Homo sapiens: one gene and its partners. The protein of the gene in region 1 purifies or fractionates together with the protein of each later gene. This does not show direct contact. Each region holds a gene or a part of one and is shown on either strand. Other genes may lie near its edges.

Evidence for each region.
Region 2: the proteins of GNPDA2 (region 1) and MAP7 purify together in Homo sapiens (affinity purification with mass spectrometry; one large-scale study listed by BioGRID and IntAct). This does not show direct contact.
Region 3: the proteins of GNPDA2 (region 1) and C11orf54 fractionate together in Homo sapiens (co-fractionation; one large-scale study listed by BioGRID). This does not show direct contact.
Region 4: the proteins of GNPDA2 (region 1) and NLN fractionate together in Homo sapiens (co-fractionation; one large-scale study listed by BioGRID). This does not show direct contact.

Annotation. Positions count from the first base shown.
Region 1 is NC_000004.12:44,713,057-44,716,556, forward strand, and holds part of GNPDA2 (glucosamine-6-phosphate deaminase 2), read right to left. Parts: intron 1,604-3,500; exon of another isoform or gene 1,540-1,603; intron 1-1,539. UniProt on the Homo sapiens protein: Catalyzes the reversible conversion of alpha-D-glucosamine 6-phosphate (GlcN-6P) into beta-D-fructose 6-phosphate (Fru-6P) and ammonium ion, a regulatory reaction step in de novo uridine diphosphate-N-acetyl-alpha-D-glucosamine (UDP-GlcNAc) biosynthesis via hexosamine pathway.
Region 2 is NC_000006.12:136,540,423-136,543,922, reverse strand, and holds part of MAP7 (ensconsin), read left to right. Parts: intron 1-3,500. UniProt on the Homo sapiens protein: Microtubule-stabilizing protein that may play an important role during reorganization of microtubules during polarization and differentiation of epithelial cells. Associates with microtubules in a dynamic manner.
Region 3 is NC_000011.10:93,751,672-93,755,171, forward strand, and holds part of C11orf54 (ester hydrolase C11orf54), read left to right. Parts: intron 1-2,010; coding exon 2,011-2,084; exon of another isoform or gene 2,085-2,088; intron 2,089-2,264; coding exon 2,265-2,366; intron 2,367-3,500. UniProt on the Homo sapiens protein: Exhibits ester hydrolase activity on the substrate p-nitrophenyl acetate, in vitro. Regulates DNA damage and repair by regulating HIF1A degradation via chaperone-mediated autophagy (CMA).
Region 4 is NC_000005.10:65,725,205-65,728,704, forward strand, and holds part of NLN (neurolysin, mitochondrial), read left to right. Parts: intron 1-3,500. UniProt on the Homo sapiens protein: Hydrolyzes oligopeptides such as neurotensin, bradykinin and dynorphin A. Acts as a regulator of cannabinoid signaling pathway by mediating degradation of hemopressin, an antagonist peptide of the cannabinoid receptor CNR1.

The DNA.
Region 1 (3,500 bases):
GGACGCACTTATTAAATAATGGCTGGATAAATGAATGTATGGTTGCTATTCTTTGGTCAGCTCGGTATAGTTTATTCCACCTCCCACCTTGTTCTCTTCTGCCTTGCTCCCCTCACCAGAGGGGCTGGAACAATTTTAATTTCCTATATCCCTCTTAGGTAAAGTGACTGTGGTCTAGAGATAAGCACTTGTCTCAGGCTGAGCCAATCAAAATATCTGTCTGGATCTGAATCTTGACCAGGGATACAGTTAACGAAGACAGCATGGTGAACTGAAGCACTGGATGACAGCACTGCAGGGAGAAGATTGATGAGTTTCTACTTCTGAGATCTGAGGTTCTCTGTTTTTCCAAAGACTTGGTTGTTTTAACTTTTCCTTCAGTTTGTGAGTTACCCTAGAATCATTCCAGTTAATTTACTTTTGATCCCATTAGTTATTTCCTTTTTCTACCAAAGCAAAGAATCCAAGCATGCAACCAAATCAGAAGGTTAACATTTTCTCCACTGTCTTCTTTTATTTTTACTTTTTAAAAACACTATTAGGCCGGGTGCAGTGGCTCACACCTGTAATCCTAGCACTTTGGGAGGCCAAGGCAGGTGGATCACCAGAGGTCAGGAGTTCGAGACCAGCCTGGCCAATGTGGCAAAACCCCATCTCCACTAAAGATACAAAAATTAGCCGGGCATGGCGGCAAGTGCCTGTAGTCACAGCTACTCAGGAGGCTGAGGCAGGAGGATCGCTTGAACCTGGGAGGTGGAGGTTGCAGTAAGCCAAGATCAAGCCACTGTACTCCAGCCTGGGCAACAGAGCGAGACTCTGTCTCAACAACAACAAAAAACCCAAGACACTACTGCGTTAAGATATTTTAAAAGTTTATATATTTAGATTTTATTGTAAAACTAGATTTTTAAAATTATTTATTTATTCATTTTGAGACGGAGTTTCACTCTTGTTGCCCAGGCTGGAGTGCAATGGCACGATATCAGCTCACCACAACCTCGGCCTCCCAGGTTCAAGTGATTCTCCTGCCTCAGCCTCCCGAGTAGCTGGGATTACAGGCATGCACCACCACGCCCAGCTAATTTTGTATTTTTTTTTAGTAGAGACGGGGTTTCTCCATGTTGGTCAGGCTGGTGTCGAACTCCCAACCTCAGGTGATCTGCGCACCTCAGCCTCCCAAAGTGCTGGGATTATAGGTGTGAGCCACCGGATCCCAGCCCTAGATTTTATTTTTAAAAATCCATGTTTGTATATCTTATTGCTGGGGTTAAGTCAGGAATTGCATGATACACCTTTTACCCTTTCTCTGAACACGTTTGCCATCAGAGGAGGAATTAGAACATTTGAGTATGTATTTCCTCCTTTTTCTTTCCCTCTTCCCTCAGAGGAAAGGGACCTCTGCTCTAATTCCCTGGAATGAGCAATAGCAGATTAACATTTTTGAGCTCTTCTCATTCTACTGTTTCCAATTCAAAGGGCAGGAGTGAAAAACCCCATTCTGGCTTCAAGCCCAAACTGCAATCTCTATTTCAACTTTACCTTTAATAAAGCTGATATTTTGATCCCATTTGGCACAGTTCTTAGAGTTTTTATTAACCAAACCCTGGAACAAAAGAAGGGTAGTTGTAAGACCCAGATGCCAATCCTCATCTAAAAATCCAATGATGATAAACCTAGATCAACAAATGAGATTCTTTCATGAATACATATCCAATAATAGGGCATCCCAAATAAGGAAAAGTTCAAAGAAAATGCAATAATCCTTCTCTCTCTCTGCACAATTATGTCCTTTAGATGGTACATATAAAATGTCAGGCATTGGATCATCCATGACTACAGTGAAGATGTTAATGTAAGAGGCACAGGAACTCTCTTAAAATATATTTGGGAGCGGGGAGGAGCGGGGAAACAACTACAGGAAGCTTAAGACAAACTGGTTAAAAAACCAAGTCAAATTCTTTTTAGTGGTGTCAGTGATAAACATATATAATTATAACTTATGCAACATCTATTTCAAAAGGAGAACTGAGGTGGTTTATACTGAAGAAACATAACCCCCTCCCAAAAAAAATTAGCTGAAAAGAAGTACGAAATGATTTAAAGTTATAAGGAAAGAGGAAAGTTCTACCAGACATCTTGGATAAGAATTACAGGCTTAAACATTATTTTATGCTATGAATGCTTTCTGGAAGGCAGGCAAAGGAATAAAATCAAGTGTTCTTATCAGTGTTATTCCCCATAGTAAAATCTATTTCCTACCTTTGGGTCTACAAGAGATTTGTCACATGCATACTTATGTAAGGTCAATAAATTAACAAGGGGGAAAGAAAGTCTACAAATGAAGATATTTTCAAGCAGCCACTTTTAATAATGAACCTCAAACAACTAAGAGCCTTTTTTTGCATTATAGTAAATGAGTGAAAACATTTTTTGATATAAGCAGTTGAAGTATGTGGTACTCCAGTAATTCTACCAGATTTTGGTGTGGAGCTTAGAAAATCTAAAGATTAGATGGTCTATGCACCCCTCAGACACTCTCAAATATCTACTGTCTAGCCTGAATATTGGAAGGTACAAATGGTTAATTATCTCAAAATTGAGTCATACGTACAAAGCAGGAGTATGCAAATGTTCTCTAGGATTACTGAAGTAATATTAGTAAATTTTATTTAAAACAGATAACCTTCTAATTTGAAAAGCAATAGTCTAACTTGGTTTCTTGCTCCAATAAACAACCATTCTATCAAGAAAGTAAATGTTATTGACTCTGCTAGGTAGAAGTAAAAACTATCTTAAAGAGAAGATTTCAGTCTTCCTGGATGTCCCTAGAGGGAATTCGGTAAAAATCCCAAGGAATTCAGTAATTCTAAGGGACAATTATTTCCGCATTTACAGTTGAGAGAGAAAGAGAAGACTGAAGTAGCACTTATGGAGTACCAACTATATACCAAGCACTGTGTAAGGCATTTTATACATGTTACAACATGATTAATTCTCACAAATTTTGGAATGTTTAATATTAATCCTCTTTTACAAATGATGTACCTATACTGAACTTCAATAAACTTTCCCAGGTCATACAGATACTAAGTGGCTAAAACAGGATACAATTTTACGTCTGACTTTAAAACCAAATTTCCCCCAATGATAATCAACTATCTCAACCATACTTGGCCACTTCAAGTATAAATTAACCTCAGGACAGCTCTATTGAAGATCAAATTCATGTAATTTTGATCAGTGTTCTATTAAGTTAATAATAAGTTATATACAGATAATTTACAGCATTAGTATTTTTAGTTGAATATTAAAGAATCTGGCAAAAAATTTTGATTTTAGTTTAGTTGATGTTGAACTATTCTTATAGCAATTAGCTAGCTGTCTGCGATAGTTTACACTGATAATAGAAAACCACGTTGTCATTACAAAGGAAAAAACTTATTTTTAACTGTAGATTATATATACACACACATATATAAATTACAAGTGGAATTTGGTAA
Region 2 (3,500 bases), on another chromosome or scaffold:
TGCAAAAAAAATTACGGATTTTCTTTTATTTTCTTTTTTTAGTTTTGTTGACTGTATAGGTAATGTAAGCACCACCGTTAACATTATCCCAAAGAGTCCTCTGCCTCCAACCTAAATTCCCTAATGCTGCACCTTTGTAGTGAGACTCTCTTCCTACACCTAACCCCTGGCAACCACTGATCTGTTTACCATCTTCCTAGTTTTGCCTTTTCCAGAATGTCATAAAAGTGGAATCATACATTGTGTAACCTTTTTTTCTTTTTTTTTGTGAGACGGAGTTTTACTCTTGTTGCCCAGGCTGGAGTGCAATGGCACAATCTCAGCTCACAGGAACCTCCTCCGCCTCCTGGGTTCAAGCGATTCTCCTGCCTCAGCCTCCCGGATAGCTGTGATTACAGGCATGTGCCACCATGCCCGGCTAATTTTGTATTTTTAGTAGAGATGGGGTTTCTACTAAACCCCATCAGGCTGATCATGAACTCCTGACCAAAGGTGATCCACCCGCCTCAGTATCCCAAAGTGCTGGGATTACAGGCGTGAGCCGCTGCACCCAGCCCCACATTGTGTAACCTTTTGAGTCTGAATTTTTCACCTGGCATCATGTTTTTGAGATTCAGGCACACTGTTGTGCATGTTAGGATGTGGTACATCCTTTTTCTTGATGAAGTAGTTTGCCATTGTATGGAAGTATCACAGATGGTTTATCAAAGAACATTTGAGTTGTTCCCGGGTTTTGGCAATTATGAATAATGCTGCTGTAAACACTTACCTACAGGTTTTTGTGTGAGCATAGTTTTCATCTATTCTGGGTAAATACCTAGGAGTGGGATTGCTGATTCATGTAACTGTATGTTTAACTTTATAAGAAATGGCCAAGCTTTTCCAGAGCAACTCTACGGTTTTACATTCTTACAAACAGTGTATGTGAGTTCTGGTTGCCCTGCATCCTCACTAATACTTAGTATCGTTAGTTTTGTTTGTTTTTAAAACTTTAGCCATTCCACCAAGTTCTTTGAGTAAAGCAATGTAATCACCTCAAAGTAAAATAGTGCCTTTTTAATGCTAACCCATGCTCACATGAATTAGGAAAGCCTGGAGGTGGTGTTGATCCCAGAGCCTAGGTATAATACGGAATTTATATTTGACTCTAATATCTTTATTCTCCTTCATTCTTTTTTCCCCACAGTATTTCTTTTTTTTTTTAATTTTAACACACCATTGCTTGCTTGAAGAGCCATAGTATCTCTTATTTCCTGTGGAGTATGCATTCTGAAGTTGATTATAGACGGAAGTGCCATTATATAGCACATTCCCTGCCAATTCAAGTTCTCTCTTCCTCCTTAATGGTCTCTGTTCTAATCCCTTGAGATATGGCTTTCTAGAACTTGGAAATAACTTGTTTTGTTGTTAGAAAGCTAGACATATTGTTCATATACTTTGTTTATTATCCTGATTAATTCCTTATTGGAACATCTTATATTGTCAAACTGAATACTTACCAGTTCTCAGATACAGTGCTTTGTAAAGCCTTGATAGTCTGTCATTGGACGTTTCATCAGTTGCTCATGGTCTAAGGTTCTGTAAGCTAAATGTGAATGGTATTTAGGCTTATACTTTTTTATAAAATTCAGTTTTAGGGTTTGTCTCGTTCTCTAGCGGTGATGTTGTCTACCTCTTTACTATCTTAGCTCTTGTAAAACTCTGAGTTACGGTTGTTGACACATTTAAATGGCATTTGGATTTTCTCTTCAGTAATTATTATTCTCTTTAGTATCTTTTTAATTTGAGAAATAGCCTGTTGAAAAAGATCTGTAAGATTTTTTTATTAGGTACCACTTTGAAATTTTTTTTAAATATATTTTTTGAGACAGAGTCTCGCTGTGTTGCCCAGGCTGGAGTGCAGTGGCACGAACTTGGCTCACGGTAACCTCTGCCTCCCAGGTTCAAATGATTCTTGTGCCTCAGCCTCCCGAGTAGCCGGGACTACAGGTGCCCACCACCATGCCCAGCTAATTTTTGGATTTTTAGTAGAGAGGGGGTTTTGCCGTGTTGGCCAGGCTTGTCTTGAACTCCTGAGCTCAAGCGATCTGCCCAACTCAGCCTCCTAAAGTGCTGGAATTACAGGTGGGAGCCACCACTCCCGGCTCCACTTTGAATTTTGATTTGAAGAGTAATATATAGTATTTGACACTGAGAAAAACTGCATTCAACTGTTCTTCATCCTTGATGCTCCTATAGAAATAGTTGTGAAAAAAAGAATCATGAGAAAGTGCCAAGGAGGATTGACACACCTGACCAGATGGCACAGAGGAGCACGGGGTATAAAACAATGCAGGGAGGAGGCTGGGAGCAGTGCACTTGGCATATGTGAGCTGCACTTCATAGGCACTGTTAGTAAATGATATATCTTTAAGTTTAGAGTATTGAGATTTGGGGTATCTTAAAATTTCTAATTCTGTGACTTTTAAAATTAAATGATATGTAAGCTTCCTTTTTGGAGTTGGCTTTCTAGTAAAGAGAACTATCCTTCACTATGGCATAACCTCTGAGTATAAAACTCATTTCCCCAACACTGTTGAATGTAGAAAAGTTCTCTAGGATCAGTTTAAATGTCAAGGTGAAGTTCTAGAAAGGAGCCCTTCCTTAGCACCTCCACCCCTCATCATGAAGCCTACTTGGTGGCAATAACATGCATAATAATTGGCTGTAAGATGTGTTCCTGTAGCAAAACTTTTGGCTGCTTCTCAAGATTCGAATCTGGGCTTCTGGTTCTCAGAAGCTCCTGACCCAAGCCTTTGGGGTGGCAGGCGCACCAGACAGGACCTGGTTGCTTACTTCTTGCATTCCAGCTGGACTGGTTTCTATTCATGGTAGATGCTCCAAATTAGTTCAGTGACAACTTCACCACAGGCGTGGTGGGTTCATTTAAATATGGGTCACTCCTTGACCCCAAGGTTATGTTGTTGAAATGATTATTGCGCCCATGTGCTGGAGTATCATTGATTCACATCATTGGCTCTCAATCTTGGCAGTGATTAAAAATCACCTGGGGACCATTTAAATATCAGGATGCCCAGGTGGCATCCAAGGTAATTATCTGAGAATCTTGCAGGATGGGAGTCAGGTGGCAGTGTTTTTAAAATTCCCCAGATGGTCTGGTGTGCAATCAGTGCTGAGAACTAATGATTCAGAACCATTTCCTATTGTATTCCCTTCCATTTGACTATTGTGGTGTGTGGTGTCAAGTGTGTGCACCTTGCTTATGGAAACCACATGGAAAATCGTAATAGCAATTGCCCTAAGTCTAGTGAGTTTACTCAGGTTGTCTCTTATTTTGCCCCAGGACTTTTTTGAAGGAAATATAGATGTGAATACAGTTATGAGTACAATTGAATAGCTAAGTATGCACACATATACTCAGTGTCCACATGTACGCACATTTCTGTATGAATATGTGCAGTGAGACAAAATACCATTCAGCTTTTGTTTTGACTTTGCCT
Region 3 (3,500 bases), on another chromosome or scaffold:
GAGATTACAGGCGTGAGCCACCACGCCCAGCCTTGATTTTTTTAAAAATATGAGTGTAATGTATTTCCCCTGCTAATTAAGTAATTAACTAAAATTAAATAAAGGTCAGGAGACAGAAGAGTACAAGAAAGAAGGAAAAATGGTTAATCTTTTTTTTTTTTTTTTTTTTTTTGTGTGTGTGTGTGTGAGATGGAATCTCGCTCTGTCGCCCAGACTGGAGTGTGGAGTACAGTGGCACAATCTTGGCTCACTGCAATCTCTGCCTCCCGGGTTCAGGCGATTCTCATACCTCACCCTCCCAAGTAGCTAGGATTACAGGTGTGCACCACGACACCTGGCTAATTTTTGTATTTTTAGTAGAGACGGGGTTTCATCATGTTGGCCAGGCTGATCTCGAACTCCCAGTCTCAAGTGATGTGCCCGCCTCGGCCTCCCAAAGTGCTGGGATTACAGGTGTGAGCCATCATGCCCAGCCAAAATGGTTAGTCTTAATTTTGTCATGCAGAGTTATGCTTGGAAGAAGTGTTTTCTGGTCAGTAATTTGTGAGTCTTTAAATTGCAATACTAGAAGCCAGATATGCATCTAATATGTGTATGTATGATCTTTCATAAACATAGGAGTTTAAGACCAAACTGGCCAACATGGTGAAACCCAATCTCTACTAAAAGTACAAAAATTAGCTGGATGCAGTGGTGTGTTAGACATTTTCTACATGAACTGGTCTTGCTAAGATCACCAGTGACCTTAAAATGTTTACTAGTACTATTTAACCTCTCCACGTATTTCATACTGCTTGGCCATTGCTGCCTGACATTCTCCCCTAGGTTCTATCTTCTCTATCCTTGTTTCACCTGTTCTTCCTTTGTGCCTTTCCTTCCTCTTTTCTTCCATATTTTCCTGGTTCCTTTTTCTTTCTAATAGTCTCTTAAATATTGATCTTTTCCAGAATTCTTTCCTTAGCCTCTTCTTATTTCTAGTAATCTATCTGGGTATTTTTTAAATCCACTCTTATGGTTTTAATTACTACCTGAATATAACTTTGAAATTTGTACATCTCACCTAGATCTCTCTGGGTTTTTTTTTTTTTTTTTTTTGAGACGGAGTCTCGCTCTGTCACCCAGGCTGGAGTGCAGTGGCGCGATCTCGGCTCACTGCCAGCTCTGCCTCCCAGGTTCACACCATTCTCCTGCCTCAGCCTCCTGAGTAGTACACCCAGCCTCCTGAGTAGTACGCCCGGCTAATTTTTTGTATTTTTGGTAAAGATGGGGTTTCACCGTGTTAGCCAGGATGGTCGCGATCTCCTGACCTCGTGATGTTTTGTTTTTTGAGACAGAGTCTTGCTCTGTTGCCCAGGCTGGAATACAGTAGCACAATCTTGGCTCACTGCAACCTCTGCCCCCGCCGGGTTCAAGCAATCCTCCTGCCCCAGCCTCCTTGGTAGCTGGGATTATAGGCTCCCGCCACCATGCCCAGCTAATTTTTCTATTTTTAGTAGAGATTCACCATGTTGGCCAGGCTGGTCTCGAACTCCTGACTTCAGGTGATCCACCCGCCTCAGCCTCCCAAAGTGCTGGGATTGCAGGCGTGAGCCACCATCTGAGAATTTACATTGTACCAGAGCAAAATATTTTAAATTAAAAAACAAGAAACAATTTTAGCCAAAAAAAGGAAAACCACCCCAAAATAGATTTTTTTTAAAGAAATAAGGCGTCAAAGACATTCTAGAAACCTTACCCAATCCAAACTTTGGCCCCAGTTCTAACCCTTGCCCTTGCCTTGTATTGCCTTTATGCCACCAACTTTATAAGCCATGCTTGGTTATGATGATTATTAGAGACACAGGTACTTAAAATAGGACAGGGGTTCTAGCCACTATGTCTTCCAATCCCTGTTATTTGTAAAACTTTATGATAATGGAGAAGTTATATACTGTTGGCATTTTATTATTAAATTAGATGTTTGCCTGTTTTTAAGGTGGCTTGTGTTTTTGTTTTTTGGTTTTTTCTTAGGCATCTGTGGGAAAACTAGAATTGCAGAAGTTGGAGGTGTGCCTTACTTATTGCCTCTTGTAAACCAAAAAAAAGTAAGTACTTTTACTCTGCATATTCACATGAAGATTGTAGAAGTTGGGTTGATTACTGTGTTTATTATTAGAAGACCTGTTGATCAGTTGGCAAGGAAGTGCTAATGGATCAGTAATAAAAGGTAAACCAGGGACTTTGTACAAGTTGTGACTTAAATAATATTTTTTCCTCTTCTATAGGTTTATGATCTGAATAAAATTGCAAAAGAAATCAAGCTGCCTGGAGCCTTTATTCTTGGAGCAGGAGCAGGTCCATTTCAGACTCTCGGGTTCAATTCTGAGGTCAGCATATATAAGAAAATTATTTTACTTTATTGGTTTGACATTTGGTTTGTCTTTTTGCTTTTAGTGCCAAAAATCCTACTTTCTGAGTGAATTGTAAATCTCTCTGCAGGTTTGATACTACTTGATGTAGATTTCTGCTATAGCACACACTCCAACTGGACTAACTGTAATGGAGTACTAACTTGTAGTTTTAGATTTTCTTAGGTCATAGCTTCAGCCTTAGATAAATGCAGGGTTCTATGGTATTCTGTTGAAGGTTCTGGATTATAAAATATTTATATTCTTACAGGATTCCGAGCTTATCTATAAATCTTTGCTTTGGGTATGCAGGCAGCTTTGGATTAGAAGATGAATGGAATATTAGTGATCTAGTCAACTCCTTCTTCCACACCAAATAGTAGGAAACTATCACAATAGTATGATGGTTATTTATGAAAGTTAATAGTTATTACTAGTATATATTATTACCATATGAAAATATTACTGTTTCTTTGAATCTCATGAATACAAGACTTCAGTCTGCTCATTCTCTCATAACCTCTTCAGATATGAATAGTAGTCATACAAGTTCTTTGCAGAAACATTAGTACAATTTGCCTAGTGTTCAAGTTAGGAAAAAAAGTTAAAAATTTAAAATAAGATATTTAACGCAAGTTATAGATACACTGTAAGAAATCCAATAAATATCTTTTTTTTTTTTTTTTTTTTTTTTGAGATGGAGTCTCGCTCTGTCGCCATGCTGGAGTGCAGTGGCGCGATCTTGGCTCACTGCAACCTCCACCTCCCAGGTTCAAGCAATTCTCTTGCCTCAGCCTCTTGAGTAGCTGGGACTACAGGTGTGTGCCACCACGCCCAGCTAATTTTTGTATTTTTAGTAGAGACAGGTTTTCACCATGTTGGCCAGGATGGTCTTGATCTCTTCTCTTGACCTCGTGATCCGCCCCCCTTGGCCTCCCAAAGTGCTGGGATTACAGGCATGAGCCACAGCGCCCGGCCTATAAATGTTTTCCAAGTTTTTTATGTCTAAAATTAAATATTATGTATTTTATGTTCTCTTATTAGGACTTGAACTAAAATGTCTTAAAAGGATTAAATGTTTTGTAACATTATTCAAGATATTCTCTTTGCAGA
Region 4 (3,500 bases), on another chromosome or scaffold:
TCATTTTGGTTTAAGATGAAGAAAATCCCACCTCACAGTCATATGAAGTTGGAAAGAAGAATATTTTAATAGCTTTTTAAAGATAATCATGGATGTTCTTTGATATCACATCAAAGTTTGACAAATCGTAGCTTTTTAAAGGTTAGTTACAAAGTGGAATTTGAAACTATATCAATGTACTTGTTTTACACTGTTACATTAATATCCAATGGTGTACCTTACACTTTGAATGGATGTTGAATCCATGCCTGTTTTTTAAAACATTAAGCATAAGTCCTTCGGAAATTTTAGTGGTTCACTGTGTTATACAGTTCTTCCTAATGTTGACATATTTCATTATACAGTATCAAACAATCACTTTCCTTAATGTCTTCCTATTTAGTCGGAAAAGTCTTCAAGTATTGGGAAGCTGTCAAGCTCACAGTGGCAGATAGGATTTTCCAAAATTCTAGTTTTCACTTGAAAGCTAGAATTTTATCATTGGTAACACAAACTGTCAGTTGTTTTACTTGAAGTGACAATCTCACTTTGTTACATTTTTGACAGAATTTCTGCCACATACTTAAGTCTGAATAACCCTGGTTTGTCTGTCAGTAGTTTTTTTCTGGTAAAAATGGTGTTCCATGGGCTGGGCACGGTGGCTCACGCCTGTAATCCCAGCACTTTGGGAGGCCATGGCAGGTGGATCACGAAGTCAGGAGATCGAGACCATCCTGGCTAACACGGTGAAACCCTGTCTCTACTGAAAATACAAAAAATTAGCCGGGCGTGGTGGCGGGCGCCTGTAGTCCCAACTACTCGGGAGGCTGAGGCAGGAGAATGGCGTGAACCCGGAAGGTGGAGTTTGCAGTGCGCCGAGATTGTGCCACTGCACTCCAGCCTGGGCGACAGAGCGAGACTCCGTCTCAAAAAAAAAAAAAAAAAAATGGTTTTCCATGAAAAAAATCTATTTCAGCTCACAGTTCAACCAATTGCAAAAGTGCTTTTGATTTGGGCAACCAAATCCTCAGGACAACCCTTATACTCAGGTACACAGCAGAAATGCTTTGTGTGTACTTGGTCACATATAACTCAAAGGTAGAGATTTAATAAAAATTCATACTTTTTACCATTTCATTAAGGATATTCTAAAATGAAATTGACATTATTTTTAGCCTGAGTGCATGGCAATGAAAAATATAGCTACTAGTATAGTTTGGTGTCATTGCCTCAATTTGTGCTGAAGTACCAACAGTATTATCCACCATTCCTTTTCGCCATCAGTGCAAATGTTCATAAAGTAAAAAGGATAAATAATGTCTTAGTATTGTTATGAAAGATTTTTAACCTCACAGATTCCTTGAAAGTGTCTCAGGAACCCCTCCCCATACCTCTACCTTTAAGGTTTGTGGACTACATTTTGAGAGCTGCCGATATGTGGTATTAGATTCTTTGTTTATGCATGGAAGAAAATAAATATACTAATAGCCAAAAAATTATTACCTTGTTAGAAGCTACCATAAATATATTAACTAATTTGTTACATAAGGGCATATCTTACAGTTAATCATCATATATGGTAGTCCTTAACCCAGGGCTTCCTTGACTTAATCACAGAATCTGCTCTGTTTCAAAATCAGTATCTTCCAAAAGAGTTCATATTAGACAACATGGAGGACCCCCTGTGTTCTCCTGTTTTTCCTGTTTCCTCTGACACTTGGGAGTTCATTTTAGTGTTATGGAGTAACTAGGCTTTTGCCTAACTGACTTACAGTTTCCATTGGGTTTTCTTGTTGGCAGAGCTGCTATATCCCCTTCCCAAGGCCAGCTTCCAGCTAGGATCATTGATTGGGGTGTTCAGCCAACTTCTTGGGAATAAGTGGACTGAGAATCTGGAGTTTGGATTATAGTTGCTGTTCAATTCACTTTGTGACCTTAAAAAAATCACTCACTCCCTTGGACCTCTTTCAAGTTATGTACCTATGTATGTATGTATTTTAGAGACAAGGTCTCACTCTGTCATCCAGGCTGAAGTGCAGTGGGGCATGATCATGGCTCACTGCGGTCTCAAACTCTGGTTTCAAACAATCCTCCCTGCCTCAGCCTTCTGAGTAGCTGGGACTACAGGCGCTCACCACCATGCCCAGCTAATTTGAAAAAATTGTTTGTAGAGATAGGATCTTGCTATGTTGCCGAGGCTAGTCTAGAATTCCTGGCCACAAATGATCCTCCCATCTCAACCTCTGAAAGTGCTGGGATTACAGGAGTGTACTATCATGCCTGGCCCAGGTTCCTTATATTGTAAAATGAAAAGGACTAGACTAAATAATAGCTAAGGCCTTAAAAAAAAAACAAAAAGCAAAAAACCTCTATATTGCCATAGCAAACCAGGAGAATTCCTCCTCCTACCTCAGATTGTACAGCATGTGACCCAAGCAAAGCCTAATGTATATTATAGAATAAGAGGGATGAGTGACATGGTCAAAGAAACAAACGAGAAGGTTGACTCAACAATATTTAGCCGAAACAATAGCTGTAATAGCCTAGCTTCCTCTTGCAATTAGAAAAGACAGCTTGGTTTGTTTTTTGGTTTTTGTTTTTTTGAGACAGTCTCGCTCTGTTGCCCAGGCTGGAATACAGTGGCATGATCTCGGCTCACTGCAACCTCTGCCTTCTGGGTTCAAGCAATTATCCTGCCTCAGGCTCCTGAGTGGCTGGGATTACAGGTCCCCACAACCACGCCTGGCTGATTTTTTGTATTTTTAGTAGAGCTGGGGTTTCACTATGTGGGCCTGGCTGGTCTTGAACTCCTGACCTCAAGTGATCTGCCCACCTCAGCTTCCTAAAGTGCTGGGATTATAGGCGTGAGCCACTGCACCTGGCCTAAAAAACACAGCTTGGTTTTTTAAAATGATGACAGCAATGCGTGTTCATTATTGAAAACTTAGCAAGTAATGACAAGCAAAAGAAAATATTAAATATATATATAATCCAGCCACCTGGAACAGCCAATTCTTAACAGCTTTCAAAATTTCCTCTATGAACAGACTTTCTTTTTATAAATATGATATTGTTATTCTTTTATAATTTTTAATATTATACAAACATCCCCTAAAATATAAATAGCTATAATATATTCCTTTTGGGGATGTATGCAATTTGATTAATATACGCCTTTAGAAATGTCAACTATTCCCAACTTCCTGCAATGAGTAATAGTGCTTGGATAAACATTCCTATTGTCCTTTTCCAAATCTTTAGTTATTTTCTTAGTATAAATTCTTACAAATGGAATTTGTACATCAAAGGGCATGCATACCTTTCAGGTCTTTGGTACTTATCATCTTATTCTATTCTAAAAACTTTCTCCCAAATTATAACCTTACCAGGTGAGTAAGTAAATGCTGGTTTCCTATACTGTTACCAACATTGAGCATTTTAATTTTTTTTATCCTTACCAGTTTGATAAGTGGAAATTTCTCTTATTATAATTTGCATTTTCATACATTTTTGGAAGGTTT